5 linked regions of the Homo sapiens genome follow. The protein of the gene in region 1 interacts with the protein of each later gene in a pairwise test. Each region holds a gene or a part of one and is shown on either strand. Other genes may lie near its edges. The genes, in order: SGO2, PPP2R5A, CDCA8, PPP2R5D and EXOSC8.

Region 1 (4,000 bases):
TTAATAGAAAGCCATTCCCACTCAGACCAAAGTTCTAAGACTTCTCTAATGAGTGAGATGAGAAACGCCCAGTCTATTGGCCGCAGATGGGAGAAACCATCTCCTAGTAATGTGACTGAAAGGAAGAAGCGTGGGTCATCTTGGGAATCAAATAATCTTTCTGCAGACACTCCCTGTGCAACAGTTTTAGATAAACAACACATTTCAAGTCCAGAATTAAATTGCAATAATGAGATAAATGGTCATACTAATGAAACAAATACTGAAATGCAAAGAAATAAACAGGATCTTCCTGGCTTATCTTCTGAGTCTGCCAGAGAACCTAATGCAGAGTGCATGAATCAAATTGAGGATAATGATGACTTTCAATTGCAGAAAACTGTGTATGATGCTGACATGGATTTAACTGCTAGTGAAGTCAGCAAAATTGTCACAGTCTCAACAGGCATTAAAAAGAAAAGTAATAAAAAAACAAATGAACATGGAATGAAAACTTTCAGAAAAGTGAAAGATTCCAGCTCTGAAAAAAAGAGAGAAAGATCAAAGAGACAGTTTAAAAATAGTTCAGATGTCGATATTGGGGAAAAGATTGAAAACAGGACAGAAAGATCTGATGTCCTGGATGGCAAAAGGGGTGCAGAAGATCCCGGTTTTATTTTCAATAATGAACAGCTGGCTCAGATGAATGAACAGCTGGCTCAGGTGAATGAACTAAAGAAAATGACCCTTCAAACTGGCTTTGAACAAGGTGACAGAGAAAATGTACTGTGTAATAAAAAGGAGAAAAGAATAACAAATGAGCAAGAGGAAACATACTCTTTATCCCAAAGTTCAGGTAAATTTCACCAGGAGAGTAAATTTGATAAGGGTCAGAATTCCCTAACTTGTAATAAAAGTAAAGCTTCTAGACAGACATTTGTGATTCACAAATTAGAAAAAGATAACTTACTCCCAAACCAAAAGGATAAAGTAACCATTTATGAAAACCTAGACGTCACAAATGAATTTCACACAGCCAATCTTTCCACCAAAGATAATGGAAATTTATGTGATTATGGGACCCACAATATATTGGATTTGAAAAAGTATGTCACTGATATTCAACCCTCAGAGCAAAATGAATCAAACATTAATAAGCTTAGAAAGAAAGTAAACCGGAAGACAGAAATAATTTCTGGAATGAACCACATGTATGAGGATAATGATAAAGATGTGGTGCATGGCCTAAAAAAAGGTAATTTTTTTTTCAAAACCCAAGAGGATAAAGAACCTATCTCTGAAAACATAGAAGTTTCCAAAGAGCTTCAAATCCCAGCTCTTTCTACTAGAGATAATGAAAATCAATGTGACTATAGGACCCAGAATGTGTTGGGTTTGCAAAAGCAGATCACCAATATGTACCCCGTTCAGCAAAATGAATCAAAAGTTAATAAGAAGCTTAGGCAGAAAGTAAATCGGAAGACAGAAATAATTTCTGAAGTGAATCATTTAGATAATGACAAAAGTATAGAATACACAGTTAAAAGTCACTCACTCTTTTTAACGCAAAAAGATAAGGAAATCATCCCTGGAAACCTAGAAGACCCAAGTGAGTTTGAAACACCTGCTCTTTCTACCAAAGATAGTGGAAACCTGTATGATTCTGAGATTCAAAATGTTTTGGGGGTGAAACATGGCCATGATATGCAACCTGCTTGTCAAAATGATTCAAAAATAGGTAAGAAGCCTAGACTAAATGTATGTCAAAAGTCAGAAATAATTCCTGAAACCAACCAAATATATGAGAATGATAACAAAGGTGTACATGACCTAGAAAAAGATAACTTCTTCTCTCTAACCCCAAAGGATAAAGAAACAATTTCTGAAAATCTACAAGTCACAAATGAATTTCAAACAGTTGATCTTCTCATCAAAGATAATGGAAATTTATGTGATTATGACACCCAGAATATATTGGAGTTGAAAAAGTATGTTACTGATAGGAAATCTGCTGAGCAAAATGAATCAAAAATAAATAAGCTCAGGAATAAAGTGAATTGGAAGACAGAAATAATTTCTGAAATGAACCAGATATATGAGGATAATGATAAAGATGCACATGTCCAAGAAAGCTATACAAAAGATCTTGATTTTAAAGTAAATAAATCTAAACAAAAACTTGAATGCCAAGACATTATCAATAAACACTATATGGAAGTCAACAGTAATGAAAAGGAAAGTTGTGATCAAATTTTAGATTCCTACAAAGTAGTTAAAAAACGTAAGAAAGAATCATCATGCAAGGCAAAGAACATTTTGACAAAAGCTAAGAACAAACTTGCTTCACAGTTAACAGAATCTTCACAGACATCTATCTCCTTAGAATCTGATTTAAAACATATTACTAGTGAAGCAGATTCTGATCCAGGAAACCCAGTTGAACTATGTAAGACTCAGAAGCAAAGCACTACCACTTTGAATAAAAAAGATCTCCCTTTTGTGGAAGAAATAAAAGAAGGAGAGTGTCAGGTTAAAAAGGTAAATAAAATGACATCTAAGTCAAAGAAAAGGAAGACCTCCATAGATCCTTCTCCAGAGAGCCATGAAGTAATGGAAAGAATACTTGACAGCGTTCAGGGAAAGTCTACTGTATCTGAACAAGCTGATAAGGAAAACAATTTGGAGAATGAGAAAATGGTCAAAAATAAGCCAGACTTTTACACAAAGGCATTTAGATCTTTGTCTGAGATACATTCACCTAACATACAAGATTCTTCCTTTGACAGTGTTCGTGAAGGTTTAGTACCTTTGAGCGTTTCTTCTGGTAAAAATGTGATAATAAAAGAAAATTTTGCCTTGGAGTGCTCCCCAGCCTTTCAAGTAAGTGATGATGAGCATGAGAAGATGAACAAGATGAAATTTAAAGTCAACCGGAGAACCCAAAAATCAGGAATAGGTAGGTTAATAACCATTATGAAATGATAAAGTTTTAGAAGTGTTTTGTTTTTTGTTTTCGTTTTTTACTTAGCCAGTGAAGTATTTTCTAACTGGTATTTTTATGGAATTTAAAAACAATATATAACTGAGTACATGATCCATAGAAATAGCATGAAGGAATAAAGAAAGTTTCATACTTTGGGAAATAACAGTGAGAGTATCTTGGACATTTACAACTATAAATGGATTTGGCCTTTACCACAAACTTGTCTAATAAAGACCATAGGCAAATAATTTGCTTTTTCATACATCTGAAGGAAATTGAATGTTTTAAATGTATATAATAATGAATTGTACTGGTTTTTATTTTACTGAAGACAGTTGCATGTTTCTTGAGAGTGAGACTCTTTCCCCATTCAACAACGTATATTTAATGTGATCAAACCCTTCTAGATATTATAGAGGACTGAAAAATAAACAATACCAACCCCCTTTCCTCAGATTCCATGTATGTAACAAACATCATGGTGAAATGGAATAAACGATTCTTTAAGCACATGTATTATGCTAAGGGATATAATGGGGAGTAATTTTGACTAGAGGAATCTTCAAACGCATCCTTAAATAGGTAGCATTTTAGGCCCTAAAGGATAAGTAAGATTTTTACCTGTAGTATTTACTTTTTATTTTTTTCCCAGTTATTAAAATAGTACTCATTGCAAAAAAATCAAAAGTAGAGAGTCAGAAAAAGGGAGGGGGAAAAAATCACCTGGGAGAACTTTAGTCCATTTACCATGTGCATGCAGACCCAAATCTATGGAATTTTAAATATATATTTCTTTTGCCATTAGAAATTTTGTAATATTAAACATTCCTATACCAATTAAAAATTTTTACTGGGAGCCTATTATTTCAATATATGTGTGTAGATCCCTAAGGTTTTGGCGGGTAAGTCAATTCCAGGTAAAAGCACACTGAAGCAAAAGAATTACAAAGGTTTAGAGTTGCAGGATTTGTTAGAAGACTGGTGAGACATTTTTTATCTTTGTGCTCCTCATGGTGCCTTACACAGAGTGAGTGATCA
Region 2 (4,444 bases), on another chromosome or scaffold:
CATGTCAATTTAAAATTGCAAATCTCCCTGGAGGTTGTGGTCAAACCCTCTTGGGGAGACCAACTGAACATTTGCAGAGGATACACAAACTACTCCGTTAATGCAGAGTTGTGTTGGTCTACTCTCAGTGTATAGTCTCCCCTCTATAAATGGCACTGTCCCAGGGGAAAGCCGAAGTGCTAAGGGTAATATATTCTAACTTCTTTAACATCCTTATCCGGCTTTCTACTTTTCATAAGTTTTGGTAATTGGATCTTTTTCATCTTCTTTTAATGTTGTTACTCAGGATTTCAGACATGAGACTGTAAAGCAGAAATGAAGATAACTATAGTGAACATTTTTAACTAGAGTTTAATGTAAGCATGATAAAATGGAAAAGATTTAAGTTTTCTTAGACTGTCTCTACCACCACTTGCTGTATGACCTTGAGCATATTACAAACCTCTTGAGCCTCAGTTTTATCATCTCTAAAATGGATTAAATGAAATCAGCCAAGCTTTAACCCATTTTAGAGACCATAGTGTTACATTTCCTCTCTGTTAGCAGTATCATAACTCAGGACTGGCTCATTTTCATTTCAGGACCATTGTAGCACTGGTATACAATGTGCTGAAAACCCTAATGGAAATGAATGGCAAGCTTTTCGATGACCTTACTAGCTCATACAAAGCTGAAAGACAGAGGTATTTGATATTTTGAATTACAAAATTATCTATACATTTTATGTTAGTTGAATGTGATTCAGTTCAGGAAGGTATCTTCTCTCAGTTCAGATTTTCATATTTAAGAAGTTAATTACCTTATAGTAAACATTACAATGTGAAAGTCTCTTAACATATAAGTCATTTCCAGATAAACTAGCCCCAGTATTTTTATAAATTTGTTAAAGCAGAAAAAGCAGTAGCATTTATTTTTGAGGGTAGTTACATAATTTACTTCCTCTAAATGGTTAGATTATGATTTTAATGTGGATCATAAATCCTGTTTATCTCATTCTGAGCCTTAGATTTCCTCAGTCTGTTAGCATCTGCATATGAAATATAATTTATGCTGAATTTTAAATATCAATTTGTACAATTTGATTTTTTATCCATGCATTTACGAAAATCCTTTTTGTCCACGTGGGCTTCCAGAGTGAGCTTTACTTTTCAAGTGTTCTTTGTTAGCAGTAGGTAATTCTTACGCTGTGGATTATCAGAAGGTGGTATTTTAAAGTCAGCATAGTTCTCCTTTGGGAAGAGGGAAGTCACATAATGATATGGCTTAGGGTACTATTAATATGTTGTCCTTGCAATAATATGTATTTTAGAGTATAAATGTTAGCACGTATCAGCCTTTAGGAACATGGCCTAGTGATTACCTCTTTTTGAGAATTTCATAAATTACTATAAAATAATCTTTCAAGAGTTACTTTCTTCTCATATGTTTATTTCAAACTCAAGAAGCACTTTCTTAAACTTAAGTGGTTAGTAACCAGTGTACCTGAGCCCACCCATTATTTGAGGATAACAGTTACCATTTACTTCTAATAAGCATATTACCTGTTCTGTTTAGAAAAGCTATCTATTTTGACAAGTTCCTAGTTATGGTTATCTTAAAGTAGAAAATGGATAGCCTTTCTTCAAAGCCATCCAGCCCATTAATAACTAACTCAATGCATTATTTCCTTTAAATAGCAGCATTCAGGCAGGAATAGAAATTAAGTACATGTTTTGAGCCTCAGGAAGCAATGGGAAGAAAATAAGATGACTAGGATCATAGGAAACTTGTATTTGAAAAATATGTATTTCACATGACTAAGAATATACTCATCATTTCTTACCTGCATAAATCAGCAAATCCTTTAAAAGGATTTGTCCTTTTAACTCATAACTGCAGAATTATAAGCCTATGTTTTACATGTTCATGGAGCCTTTCAGAATAGACAGGTTCAAGTTACTCAGAAATGTTTTCCTTAGAACTGAAATTAATTAGTTGAAACGACATATGAAATATTTTGACCTTCATTTTGTTCTAGAGAAAGATTACTGAAACTAAAGTTTTCATTTGACATGTAAAAGAGGAGCTAGTAAGATACAAACTGGTTAGTGGCTAGAGATGTGGCTGTTAGTGGCAAAAATGATGTGGCTTCTGTCTGGTGTGGTGAAGGAAGTGCTTCCTACTGACCTAGTGGCCAGCCCCTTCAGCCTTTGTAATACTGATTAGACTACTACAACTGCAAGATGTTTACGTGAGAAAATTGACGTGTAAGTACTTTGTTGACTATAAAGTACAGTGTCATGGTAGTGATAATGTGTAGGGGACAGAAAGCAAGTAGTAACGTCTAGCTGGTACAGGAGATGCACAGACTCAGTACATTTAGGAGAGTGACAAGAAGAAATTAGGTGCTCCAGGTAAGTGGACTCCAAAGCTTTAGCAGAGGGATTTAAGTGAAATGTGGGTAAGTAATGTGTTCTCCAGTAAGCTGTCAAACAGCACCTCTCTTTGGGTTCTGAAATAATTTCTGATTACAAAAATTTTGGTTTATCTACAGAGAGAAAAAGAAGGAATTGGAACGTGAAGAATTATGGAAAAAATTAGAGGAGCTAAAGCTAAAGAAAGCTCTAGAAAAACAGAATAGTGCTTACAACATGCACAGTATTCTCAGCAATACAAGTGCCGAATAAAAAAAAAGCCTCCCACCTCTGCCGGATAGGCAGAGTTTTGTATGCTTTTTTGAAATATGTAAAAATTACAAAACAAACCTCATCAGTATAATATAATTAAAAGGCCAATTTTTTCTGGCAACTGTAAATGGAAAAATATATGGACTAAACGTAGCCCTGTGCTGTATCATGGCCATAGTATATTGTAACCTTTGTCTAATCATTGGATTTATTGTGTCACTTCTGAAGTTTCACAGAAATGAATGAATTTTATCATCTATGATATGAGTGAGATAATTATGGGAGTGGTAAGAATTATGACTTGAATTCTTCTTTGATTGTGTTGCACATAGATATGGTAGTCTGCTCTGTATATTTTTCCCTTTTATAATGTGCTTTTCACACTGCTGCAAACCTTAGTTACATCCTAGGAAAAAATACTTCCTAAAATAAAACTAAGGTATCATCCTTACCCTTCTCTTTGTCTCACCCAGAAATATGATGGGGGGAATTACCTGCCCTAACCCCTCCCTCAATAAATACATTACTGTACTCTGGAATTTAGGCAAAACCTTAAATCTCCAGGCTTTTTAAAGCACAAAATATAAATAAAAGCTGGGAAAGTAAACCAAAATTCTTCAGATTGTTCCTCATGAATATCCCCCTTCCTCTGCAATTCTCCAGAGTGGTAACAGATGGGTAGAGGCAGCTCAGGTGAATTACCCAGCTTGCCTCTCAATTCATTCCTCCTCTTCCTCTCAAAGGCTGAAGGCAGGGCCTTTCCAGTCCTCACAACCTGTCCTTCACCTAGTCCCTCCTGACCCAGGGATGGAGGCTTTGAGTCCCACAGTGTGGTGATACAGAGCACTAGTTGTCACTGCCTGGCTTTATTTAAAGGAACTGCAGTAGGCTTCCTCTGTAGAGCTCTGAAAAGGTTGACTATATAGAGGTCTTGTATGTTTTTACTTGGTCAAGTATTTCTCACATCTTTTGTTATCAGAGTACCATTCCAATCTCTTAACTTGCAGTTGTGTGGAAAACTGTTTTGTAATGAAAGATCTTCATTGGGGGATTGAGCAGCATTTAATAAAGTCTATGTTTGTATTTTGCCTTATGTCATCTTTGCTTCTTTTAGCTCTAAGCTTAGGCATACAGGAGAAGTCTGCCCCCCTTTTTACATACATATGTGTATTTATAGAAACTTTTAAGACAAATTGTGGGACGAAGTCTAATTTAAAAATAGGAAGATTGTGTGCCAAGGTTGAGTGTTCTAGCCCTTTACCAAAATATGTTTTACAGAATATTTGCATAAAATTCTAAGTTCTAGGATATCTTTCCATCATCTTTCATATCCTTGTATGTTAAGAGGATGGGTTTAATTTACTTTGAAGCTAATTTTTCATAATCCATAATAAATAGCACTTCTAGTGAAGAGCAGGGAGCCTGTGGCACAGTTAGAAATCAGGTATTATTGGCTGGGTGCGGTGGCTCGCGCCTGTAATCCCAGCATTTTGGGAGGCCGAGGCGGGCCGATCACCTGAGGTCAGGAGTTCAAGACCAGCCTGGCCAACATGGTGAAACTCTGTCTCTACTAAAAATATAAAAACTAGCCATGCGTGCTGGTGGGCGTCTACAATCCCAGCTACTCGGGAGGCTGAGGCAAGAGAATCGCTTGAGCCCACAATGACCCAAGATGCACTCCAGCCTGGGCGACAGAACAAGATTCTGTCTCAAAAAAAGAGAAAGAAATCAGACATTATTGTAATAAAGTGTTATCTGCTACTGATGTTTACTTCTGC
Region 3 (4,000 bases), on another chromosome or scaffold:
TTGTGAAAAAGCACATCTGTGTGTGCACACATGTATACACACATATGCATGTATCTGTGAGCACATACACATGTACCTTTCGATAAAGCAAGTGCAATGATATGGTTACCCCTGGGGAATGAAGGATTAGGAGACTCATCACCTTTGGAAGAAGAGATAAGAAAATGGAACAAGGAATGAATACAGAGCCAGAAGCAAGTTATTGGCAATGTTTTAGGTCTTGGGCTGTGTGGTGGGTTTATGGGAGTTTGCTATATTGTATATTGTATCACTAACATTTAACAGTCTTATGTATTAAATAATAGTTTTAAAAAAGTTTTTATCTTGAAATATTGTTCCTCATATTTTGGTGGAATAAGCCTGGTGCTTTCTGGCTATGTTTGTCATAGGCTGACCTGGATATCACCGAAATAAACAAACTAACAGCAGAAGCTATTCAGACACCCCTGAAATCTGCCAAAAGTGAGTACCTTTCAAAACTCCTTGTTGTACAGAAAGAACTGAGGCTCAGGTTGCTTGGTTGGCTGCTCAGGCAGCGCCTTGTTGGTAGAGCCTCTTCCCTTTAATGTCTGGTTCTTAATCTTGTAAATCCAAAAACTTGCTTTTGGATGGTGCATTTAGTTAATTTTTTTTCCCCCGAACAGCAATTCAAACCAGAAATTTAGTTAATTTTAGGCAGGACTGCTAAAAACCAAACTCAAGACCCGTGTGCGAGCTAAAATGAAAGTGAAAAAAGGGGGGAAAAAAGCTGTGCTAGAAACCAAACATTGTTGCCTGCTTACTTTCTCCTGGGTTAAATAGATGACAAGATTTAGAGAGGTGTTAAAAGACTGGTAACACCAACTGAGACGCTCCCTGATGTAATCAACAAAGTTGAAAGCGAATTGAAAAAGGAATGACTTTCTCTGCATATAATTCAAAATTACTCAATTCAGGCCAGGTGCGGTAGCTCACGCCTGTAATCCCAGCACTTTGGGAGGCCAAGCTGTGAGGATTACTTGAGCCCAGGAGTTCAAGACCAGCCTGGGCAATGTAGTGAGACCTTGTCTCTGAAAAAAAAAAGAAAGAAAGAAAGGAAAGGAAAGGAAAGGAAAGGAAAGGAAAGGAAAAAAAAAGTTACTCAGCTAGGCGTGGTGGCTCACGCCTGTAATCCAAGCACTTTGGGAGGCCGAGGTGGGTGGATCACGAGGTCAGGAGTTCGAGACCATCCTGGCTAATACGGTGAACCCCCGTCTCTACTAAAAAATACAAAAAATTAGCCGGGCGTGGTGGCGGGCGCCTGTAGTCCCAGCTACTTGGGAGGCTGAGACAGGAGAATGGCGTGAACCCGGGAGGTGGAGCTGGCAGTGAGCTGAGATCATGCCACTGCACTCTAGCCTGGGCGATAGAGCGAGACTCTGTCTCAAAAAAAAAAAAAAGTTACTCAATTCCATGATCTATCCACATAAAATCATCTTACATACATGTCCCGCACTCTGAGAAACACTGTCTTATAGGAAAAGTTGTATGGGAAACCAGGTTTTGACTAGTGAGCAAGGAATCGGATCAGGATGAATTGTGACATGGACTTAATGTCACTGTCATTAAGCTATGATAGTTTGATGCATCCAATTCTTATAAGAACATCCTGACCCATGGCCAGGATTTCGGGGCTACACACCAGGGCACGCTCTACAGTAGGCAGGGCAAGCTCAATTATTCAGAATGCTGGGCTGTCCCTACAAAGCATCATATGGGGTCTCTTAACACTCTGGTTAGTTTCCTTTGTCTAAACCCTCTTTCTTAAAAAGTCTTCTTTATTTTTAGTCCATTTCTTCCTTGCAGCTTAAGATTGTGTACATTTTATTCCTATAAGAAATGTGAATGCACAAAACTTTATTTTCATCAGAAATACCACCCTGTTGAAACTGTTTCTTACAGCACGAAAGGTAATACAGGTAGATGAAATGATAGTGGAAGAGGAAGAAGAAGAAGAAAATGAACGTAAGAATCTTCAAACTGCAAGAGTAAGTGGACACTGAGGTTGGAGGCTGGGGGTTATCACAAGACAAGCAAATACAAATGCATAAAATACACTGTTGTACACCAGAGCTCACAGTTTAGTAGAGATGATCCTACTTTACATGGCAATGACAAAAGAGATAATTGACTGGTGTGCAAAGTGTGTAGAACACAGAAGAGGAAGCTAGCAAGCCTCCCCTACCCCACTAGGACATAGACAGGCCTTTCAAGGTGAGTGAGAGTCTACTAGCTAGAGAAGAAAGGGAAGAGGAACAGTATTCAGGATAGATGGGGGAGGCGGAAAACTGAAGATGAGGAAACCAGTTAGAAGCCTATGAATTCTTGAACTGACATGCTGACACTATAGAATGAAGGGATGGTTTTTAGATAGGTTTTAGAAAGAAGTGGCATGGTTGGTGGAGAAAAGGAGGAATCAGAGACAACTGCATGGTTTCTAGCTAAGGCAAATGCTATCCAGTGAGGTGTGGGACCCAGGTGGCAGAGGGTGCTGGACTGGGGGTGGTGGAGCACATGCCAATTGCATGACATGTTGACCATTCATTACTTTTCCAGGACATCTAGGCTAGACAGAAATTTCAGCCTGGAGCTCAGGGAGAAGAGGGAGATTTGAGAGATACACTGCCTCCCAGATCTTTAGGTGTTTGTCCCAGTGTGGGAGTGGAGATGGTTGTGCAGGGAGAGCAGGAAGGGAGGGAGTCAGGGTGGACACTAGAGGGAGGGTAGAGAGAGGAGCTCCTAAGGCAGACTGCCAAGGAAGTTAGAGAAGCAGGAAAGACAGATCCATCACGGAGGACAAGGGAGGAGAGAATATATGGAAGATAAGGAGTGATTCTTGCCAGGGACCTCCCAGGCCCCAGGAAGGGAGCACTGCAGGGTTTGCCTTTGATTGGGCACCTGGGACGCCCTGAGTGACCTTCACAGCAGCCCTTTATGTAAAGTAGTGGGGTACAAGCCAGGCTGCAATCAGTTCAAAAGAGATTTACCTTTAATCTTGGTCAAAATCCTCTATTTTGAAAACCCAGCCAGTGGAAGTCCTTATTCAATTAGTTATGTTCTGAACTTTTTAAGTCATTGAATTCTGAGATACACCTTATTATATTTAGTATTAACTATCCAAAGCTTGTTCTTAATGCTTTAAAAAAAAAAAAAAAACCCTCCTTACCTTCCTCTTTGCTGGGTTTTTTGTAACCTTAGTCTCATTTGATTGTGACTGCAGGTCAAAAGGTGTCCTCCATCCAAGAAGAGAACTCAGTCCATACAAGGAAAAGGAAAAGGGAAAAGGTAGTGGATTTTCTAAAGTTGTGGTGTTTTGGGTTTTATTGGAGAGCCATATATATCATGGCAGAAAGTGAGGGGCAGTGAAAAGGCTCTGGTGGCTAGTGTTTGAAAGCAGCTTAAAATCACTGAATCCTTGAGTATCCAAGCTGGAGGGGTCTCTAGAAATGACCTAAACCAAAACCATCTCCAGTACTTTAATGTACATTCTCTATCCTTCCCCACTTTTTTTTTTTTTTTTTTTTGAGACGGAGTTTCAATCTCGTTGGCCAGGCTGGAGTGCAATGGTGCAATCTTGGCTCACTGCAACTTCTGCCTCGCGGGTTCAAATGATTCTCCTGCCTCAGCCTCCCGAGTAGCTGGGATTATAGGCATGTGCCACCATGCCGGCTAATTTTGTATTTTTAGTAGATGCGGGGTTTCTCCATGTTGGTCAGGCTGGTCTTGAACCCCCGACCTCAGGTGATCCACCCACCTCAGCCCCCACTTTTTTTTTTTAAGTATAGCAAGAACTGCCTGTTATGTTTCAGTTCCTGATAGTCCATATGTAGAGCTACCCCATAGCTCGTCATAGAGTGGCTGTCACTTACCTATAATTGGTTTCTTGAAATGTTTTGTCCAGTCCTGCAAAGTGAAGAACCTCTATGGGCTTGAGTTGATTATACTGGACTCTACCATAAGCCATGTGGGGGAAGGTACAGCA
Region 4 (4,000 bases), on another chromosome or scaffold:
GCATGCCCCACCATGCCCAGCTAATTTTTGTATTATTAGTAGAGATGGGGTTTCACCATGTCGGCCAGGCTGGTCTCTAACTCCCAATCTCAGGTGATCCGCCCGCCTCGGCCTCCCAAAATGCTGGGATTACAGGCGTGAGGACATTGAATTTTTTTTTCCAAGGACAGATCAAGAAAGACCCTTACCTGCAGAGGCAGGTCAGTGGGGTCTCACCTGATCTCCCAAGGCTCCTTTCCATTCTAGGATTCACTTCTAGAATCTTAGAGCCAGCAGTATCACTTCATTCAAGACCACAAGAGACTCCAGAGTCACACAGACCTGGGTTGAATTCCAGCTCTGCCTTACTGCCTTACTGGCTGAATAAAAGCTACTTAACATTTCCTTTTGAGACAAGAGTCTTGCTCTCTCCCCCAAGCTGGAGTGCAGTGGCACAATCTCAGCTCACTGCAACCTCCACCTCCCAGGTTCAAGCAATTCTCCTGCCTCAGTCTCCCAAGTAGCTGGACCATGCCAGGCTAATTTTTGTATTTTTAGTAGAGACAGCGTTTCACCATGTTGGCCAGGCTAGTCTCGAACTCCTGACCTCAGGTGGTCTGCCCTCCTCGGCCTCCCAAAGTGCTGGGATTACAGGCGTGAGCCACTGTGCCCAGTTAACATTTCTAAGCCTCAGTTTCATCTGTGAAATGGGAATAATAATAATAAAGGAATCTCAGGGGAGTATTGTGAAGGTTAAATGAGACAATGTATGCAAAGTACTTAGCACAGTGCCTGGTACATAGTGTTGCACAGTATCCAGTCCCCTACCCCCTCCCCTCACCAAATTCATGTCCACCTAGAATCTGTGAATGTGACCTTACTTGGAAACAGGGTCTTTGCAGATGTAATCAAGTTAAAATGAGATCATACTGGATTGGGGTGAAACCTAAGTCCAATATGACTGGTGTCCTTAGAAGAGGAAAATTTGGACAGAGACAGAGACACATGGAGGAGAATGCTGTGTGAAGACAGAGGCAGAGATTAAAGTGATGCATCTACAAGGAATGCCAAAGATTGTCAAAAGCCACCAGAATCTAGGAGAGAGATGTGGAACAGATTCTTCCTTAGAACCTCAGAAGGACATGGCCCTGCCGACACTAATTTTACAACTTTTGGCCTCCAGAGCTGAGAGAGAATGTATTTCTTTTTTTGTTTGTTTTTTGTTTTTTGAGACAGAGTTTCCCTCTTGTCACCGAGGCTGGAGTGCAATGGCACGATCTCCTCTCACTGCAACCTCCGCCTCCTGGGTTCAAGCAATTCTCCAGCCTCAGCCTCCCCAGTAGCTGGGATTACAGGTGCGCCACCACTACGCCCGGCTAATTTTTGTATTTTTTTTTTTTTTTGAGACGGAGTTTCGCTCTTGTTGCCTAGTCTGGGTTGCAATGGTGCAATATCGGCTCACTGCATCCTCCGGCTCTTGGGTTCAAGCGATTCTCCTGCCTCAGCCTCCCTAGTAGCTGGGATTACAGGCATGTGCCACCACGCCTGGCTAATTTTTGTATTTTTAGTAGAGACAGGGTTTCACTATGTTGGTCAGGCTGGTCTTGAACTCCTGACCTCAGGTGATCCACCCGCCTCGGCCTCCCAAAGTGCTGGGATTACAGGTGTGAGCCACCATGCCCAGCCCAATTTTTGTATTTTTAGTAGAGACAGTGTTTTACCATGTTGGCCACGCTGCTCTCAAACTCCTGACCTCAGGTGATCCACCTGCCTCAGCCTCCCAAAGTGCTGGGATTACAGGTGTGAGCCACCGCACCCAGCCTATTTCTATTGTTTTAAGCCACCCAATTTGTAATAATTTGTTTTGTTTTGTTTTCTTGAGACAAGGTCTCGTTCTGTCACCCAGGCTGGAGTGCAGTGGTACGATCATGGCCCACTGCAGCCTTGAACTCCTGGACTCAAGCGATCCTCCGCCTCAGCCTCCCGTGTGGCTGGAAGTACAGGGGCACATGCCCCCACATCCAGCTAATTTTTTATTTTTTATTTTTTTGTAGAGACAGGGTCTCTGTATGTTGCCCAGGCTGGTGTCAAACTCCTGCCCTCAAGCAATTCTCCCACCTCAGCTTCCCAAAGCATTAGGATTACAGGTGTGAGCCAGCATGCCGGGCTTATTTGTAGTAGTTTATTATGGCTGCCCTAGGAAACTAACACAAAGTAACTGCTCTATAAAATAAATGTCAGCTGCTATAACTATTAGATCAATTAGAAAGGCTCTGGCAAATGCCTGACAGAGCAAAGCTGGCTAGAAGAGCCCAAAATTCCGGACAAGAAAAGGGCAAGGGGGCCGGGCGCGGTGGCTCACATCTGTAATCCCAGCACTTTGGGAGGCCGAGGCGGGTGGATCACGAGGTCAGGAGATCGAGACCATCCTGGCTAACATGGTGAAACCCCATCTCTACTAAAAATACAAAAAATTAGCCAGGCGTGGTGGCGGGAGCCTGTAGTCCCAGCTACTCGGGAGGCTGAGGCAGGAGAATGGCGTGAATCCAGGAGATGGAACTTGCAGTGAGCCAAGATCGCGCCACTGCACTCCAGCCTGGGCGACAGAGCAAGATTCCATCTCAAAAGAAAAAGGGCAAGGGAAGGACTGTGCCAAACAGCTTTTGAAGACCACAGCCTCACATCCTAGCTCCAACTTTTCCCCATACCCCTGCCATACCAGACGTGGGTACATTTCTACAAAATCATGGATAATTCCTGCTGCCATCTCATACCTGTGAACCCTGAGCAGCGTTTCACCAAACAGCCCAAGGTGAACTCAACACCCTCCTTTCCCAGATTGCTTGTAATAGACCCATTGTCTTAGGCATATTTGTTTGAAAGGCAGTGGATAAATCATAGCAGTTGGTCTCAGCATACTCCTTAACCTGTTCAGGCTTCATTTTCCCATCTATGAACTGATAACGTTAGACCCTAAGGTCCTTTTCAGCTCTAATGTGAAATTGGTGCATTTGTTCATTCACTCGTTCACTCATTCACTCACTAATACATTCAAATGCTGGGTGCTTCTGCTGTGTCAGGCCCTTCAGGAGTGAATGAGAGCCTCATGGAGCTCTCGTGCTAACACAAGAGACAGCCGATAAAACAATGAATTCACAAGGAATTATTTCATGACAGTTGTGGTTAGGTGCTACCAGCGCTACCAGGTACTGAGTGCCAAAACAGCAACTAACAGAAGCCCTCGCGAGGTCCTGGGGATAGGGGTGGGTGGTCAAAGAAGGCTGCTTTAAGGAAACGACATCCCATCTAAGAACTAAAGAAGTAGGAGTTAGGCAAAAGGTGGGAACTCCCCATTAAATTTTCCTTCCTCTCCCAGGATTTTCAGGACTTAGAAAATCCTGTTTCTTGCTGCTCTAAATGTCAAGTTACCAGCTTCCAACCACCTTCCCTGTGGGTCCCACAATTATAATCATTCCTGAAAGGGAGACTGAGCCCATAGTGTGTCTTCCCAGAAGCATTTACTATGAACCAACTGCACAAGTACACAGAGGTAGGAAAGAAGCAATGCAGAATAACATAGCTCCTTCCCTTGGAGTTCACAGTCTGAGAGGAGAGACACAGATGGGGACAAATCGTCACAGAGCTGAGTGATAAGGATTATTAAGGAGATATTTAGAATACCGCATAAGGGCCGGGTGCAGTGGCTCACGCCTGTAATCCCAGCACTTTGGGAGGCTGAGGCGGGTGGATCACCTGAGGTCAGGAGTTCAAGTCCAGCCTGGCCAACATGGTGAAACACCGTCTCTACTAAAAATACAAAAAAATTAGCCAAGCATGGTGGCATGCGCCTGTAATCCCAGCTACTCAGGAGGCTGAGGCAGGAGAATTGCTTGAACCCGGGAGGTGGAGGTTGCAGTGAGCCGAGATCGTACCATTGCACTCCAGCCTGGGCAACAAGAGAGAGACTCCATCTCAAAAAAAAAAAAAAAAAAAAAAAAAAAGTAGAATACTGCATAAGTGC
Region 5 (3,665 bases), on another chromosome or scaffold:
AGCCTTCCTCAGCAGAGATTCCAGCTCTCCTCTGCCTTTCAACAGCAGCAGCAACAGATACAAGTAATCCAGCAACTTCACTCTGATTACATTTTTAAAGATACTCAGCTCCAAAAGTACCTCAAAATAACTTGCTTTAGTTTTATTTTACTGTCTTTTAAGACTGTACAGTAATTGGTAAATAATTTAGCAAATTTTAAAGTCTGACATTTTAGCCAGTCAACTTGGAGCACTGAATATATTTTGTATATTTAAGCCATACTCTATAAAATTTTTCATGAAGTGCTGGTGGCACATTAACATACATTTTTCTAGTATGCAGTATATTTTGAAAGACAGTTGTAAGTGCCAATTGTTAACTTTCTAATATTTTACTGCAGAAAAGTGTTCCTATTAGTAAATGTCATACCTGTTTATTTAGAAAAATGTTATACCATAATTTTAGGAAGGAAAGTCAGCATATTATAGTTGACTATCTTGATATTCAGGGTTGTTTTATATTGCTATAAACCATCATTATACAACAAAATGGTAACTGAAGTTGCTGAGTTACTACAATATAGACTGGCAGGGCAAAGTAACAAATAATTTTGAAGTTTGCCAAGAATCATTTTTAAAGCCCTTAGCAGGCTTCTGTGCCACTGGTGCTGTTTGACTGTGCATTGTCTCAATGTGGTATAGTCCCTTTTTGTTATCTTGGTGCTTTCTCCCTTTTTCAGTTGTGTTGTTTCGTCACTCAGGAAAAGCACCTTTCTACACCTGCCTGCATTTAACATAACTCGATTTTTTTCCCTCCCTTTTGCAGCAGTTGCGATTCTTGCAGCATCAAATGGCTATGGCAGCAGCAGCAGCACAAACAGCTCAGCTACATCATCATCGGCATACAGGCAGCCAGTCAAAAAGTAAAATGAAGAGAGGCACGCCAACCACTCCAAAATTTTGAGTCTTGCATTACTTTTTGTTCCTTTTTTAAAAACACAAGAGCACTGAATCAAAAGAATTGAGTTTCTACTTTTTGTTTTTTTTAATGTGTCAGTATTTTACATTGCTAGATGTACAAACTTTATACAGAAGCACAACCTTATCATTTTTAAATAAAAACAGGGAAATGGTTTAACAAACTAGGGTTGGTTTGCCTAAGTCATTGCTTTTTAAAAATGGTTTCACTATACATAATATATATGGAAGTGACCTAAGAAATAATAGAAACATCTTTCAGAAGAATGTAGTTTGATATTTATTTAGTATAAAACGTTTGTGCACAGTGTTAACAAATACAATTTTTACAAATCTGTTTTGAAAATGTGGTGGCTGTTTATTTGGGTTTCATACTCTTAATTACTTCATCCATCAGTTTTTTAACTTCTTTGTGTCTTGTAACTGCTCGGCTCATACAGTCCTGAAGTTTAGCTCCAGTTAGCCCACTTCCACCTGAAAAATTATTTTGCCAATACTTTTAATCTCAGTTATCATTCCTTTTCAAAAAACATTAATGTCATGTCAAATTATAAAACAAAAAAATTGGATAATGTAAATCAGGGTACAGTCTCAAGATCTACAAGTTAGTTTCACAAGACCTCCAAGTGATTCTAATGTATGTCTTAAGTTTAAGAACCACTGACATATACCATTAAGATGGAAGAACATTTTAGGTAGCTAAGAAACTATACTAAAATTAGGTAAATAAAATATCCCATATTCTATTTGGCCCTCCCTAATTTAAGGCTCACACTGAGTTTTCATCTACATATGTTTAGGACTGAAGTGGCGGGAACATGCCTGGTTTGTGAAGACAACAGAGTTTGCCTTCCTCATCCATTACTATTGTTAAGGTTCCTGTTGCCAGATGTTCCTCCTCTCCAGTAGGGTCAACTATAAGCAAAGTGCTATAAAAAGAAAAAAATATAAGTTATCAATCCATGGAACAAATTTTACTTTAAAATACTAAACATACTATCAGCCTCCCAAGTAGCTGGAATTAACAGGCACACGCCATCACACCCAGCTAATTTTTGTGTTTTTAGTAGAGACAGGGTTTCAACATGTTGGCCAGGCTGGTCTTGAATTCTTGACCTCAGGTGATCCCCTGCCTCAGCCTCCCAAAGTGCTGGGATTACAGGCATGAGCCACCATGCCCGGCCCTGCTCTTCTATTTCTGAACGTGCTAAAATCCTTGGAAAATATTGAAGATAGCTTCAGATAAATCTTATAGTGAAAGAATTGGAAATTAACATTACACAGGTATAAGTAAACCAAGGAACAGGTAATAATTGTGCAGTGACTAGAAATAATTGTGCAGGGACAAGTAGAAACTCAAGTGTCCAGGGAAAACTAGGATGTAGGGTCACCATAGCACTTCCTAAAGAGTTAGAATGCTGAACATCAATTACCCTAATCTTAAATATAGAAAATTTTAAAGTAAGTTTGATTAACTTACTCATCAAACACAGCAAAGGAAGTTGCAACTGGATGAGTTCTAATATTCAAATAACTTTTCTTCTTTAAATTAACTTCTGCTAAAGCAGTTTCTTCATTTATAGTAACTTCAGGCAACTGTACTAAGAAAAGGCAAATTTGTAAAGTAAGTAAGTCTCTAAGAAACAAATGATTTCTAAGCTTTTTTTTTTTTAATTCACCTTTCCCTCTATTTAACTTGCCCAGAACATTTCTTTTTAAAAAGCACCTTACAGCCACTAAGGTAAATATAGAGGATATACATTGCTTTTCACAACATCTGACATTCCTACCTAGTGCTTATTGCATAATTTTTTTTTAAGTTTAAGAAGTCAATGATTTTTTTTTAAATTTATATCTGCCAGGTACTGTTTTAAGCATTTTCATATTTTCATTGTATTCACCTAATCAATACTCTTACAAAGTAAGTACTATTATCCCTATTTTATTATAGATAAGGAAACTTCAGCACAGAGTGAGAGAGCCAGGAATCTACTTTAACCAGTCTATTATAATATTTTGCTGACTTCATTTTCTACCTCCAATTCACTTAACCACTCTACTATAATATTGCTGTGCTAACTTTATATTCCACCTCCAATTATTTGTTCCTACCAATTCATCATTCATCAATGATAGGGAATATGCACAAGTTATTGAAATCTGTAACTAATCAGTCAACCTAGACTCCTTGCTAAGAAACTTCCCTATTACTATGGCCTCACAGTAAAAACAACAGAATCCATTCTACTTCTTTTGGCAATATCACATAAAGAACTATGAGGATACTGGCAGATCTTCACCAATCACCTAGCCAGAAGTTACAACTCTTGTCTCCTTCTCCCACCAATATTAACACTATTTTGGAAAGGACTGAAGTCCTAACTTAAGTAGATGGGTACAGTCAAAGCAGCACTCTAAAGAGCATTCAGTTAGAGAATATACAACTATCAACTATATTTGGAAAGTCATGTCAGCATTACATTCATTAATTTGGAAGCATACGAAAGCAAATGTACATTAAAAGTTTCACAAAACAACATTCTAACCCATGAGTGGGAATATTGCCTTTTTTGTAAGGCTGCTTACCATTTTTTAAAGCCGCTAGCAAAGCAAATGTGCAGGCATCCAAAATGTTTCCATCGTAGTCGAGGCAAATGAGATCACAGTATAGAACCCAGACAAGCTAAAATAGAATTAAACACAAAAGG

Evidence for each region.
Region 2: the proteins of SGO2 (region 1) and PPP2R5A interact in binary tests that used the Homo sapiens proteins (3 or more experiments, as listed by UniProt).
Region 3: the proteins of SGO2 (region 1) and CDCA8 interact in binary tests that used the Homo sapiens proteins (3 or more experiments, as listed by UniProt).
Region 4: the proteins of SGO2 (region 1) and PPP2R5D interact in a two-hybrid assay, tested with the Homo sapiens proteins (one study listed by IntAct).
Region 5: the proteins of SGO2 (region 1) and EXOSC8 interact in a two-hybrid assay, tested with the Homo sapiens proteins (one large-scale study listed by BioGRID).

Annotation. Positions count from the first base shown.
Region 1 is NC_000002.12:200,571,043-200,575,042, forward strand, and holds part of SGO2 (shugoshin 2), read left to right. Parts: intron 1-7; coding exon 8-2,935; intron 2,936-4,000. UniProt on the Homo sapiens protein: Cooperates with PPP2CA to protect centromeric cohesin from separase-mediated cleavage in oocytes specifically during meiosis I. Has a crucial role in protecting REC8 at centromeres from cleavage by separase.
Region 2 is NC_000001.11:212,358,105-212,362,548, forward strand, and holds the end of PPP2R5A (serine/threonine-protein phosphatase 2A 56 kDa regulatory subunit alpha isoform), read left to right. Parts: intron 1-581; coding exon 582-683; intron 684-2,533; coding exon 2,534-2,666; 3' UTR 2,667-3,749; downstream 3,750-4,444. UniProt on the Homo sapiens protein: The B regulatory subunit might modulate substrate selectivity and catalytic activity, and might also direct the localization of the catalytic enzyme to a particular subcellular compartment.
Region 3 is NC_000001.11:37,698,516-37,702,515, forward strand, and holds part of CDCA8 (borealin), read left to right. Parts: intron 1-389; coding exon 390-462; intron 463-1,920; coding exon 1,921-2,006; intron 2,007-3,238; coding exon 3,239-3,303; intron 3,304-4,000.
Region 4 is NC_000006.12:42,990,680-42,994,679, reverse strand, and holds part of PPP2R5D (serine/threonine-protein phosphatase 2A 56 kDa regulatory subunit delta isoform), read right to left. Parts: intron 1-4,000. UniProt on the Homo sapiens protein: The B regulatory subunit might modulate substrate selectivity and catalytic activity, and might also direct the localization of the catalytic enzyme to a particular subcellular compartment.
Region 5 is NC_000013.11:37,006,950-37,010,614, reverse strand, and holds the end of EXOSC8 (exosome complex component RRP43), read right to left. Parts: intron 3,641-3,665; coding exon 3,544-3,640; intron 2,559-3,543; coding exon 2,438-2,558; intron 1,887-2,437; coding exon 1,780-1,886; intron 1,432-1,779; coding exon 1,316-1,431; 3' UTR 1,001-1,315; downstream 1-1,000. Other genes in the region: SUPT20H (transcription factor SPT20 homolog), read left to right, coding at 1-63, 806-943. UniProt on the Homo sapiens protein: Non-catalytic component of the RNA exosome complex which has 3'->5' exoribonuclease activity and participates in a multitude of cellular RNA processing and degradation events.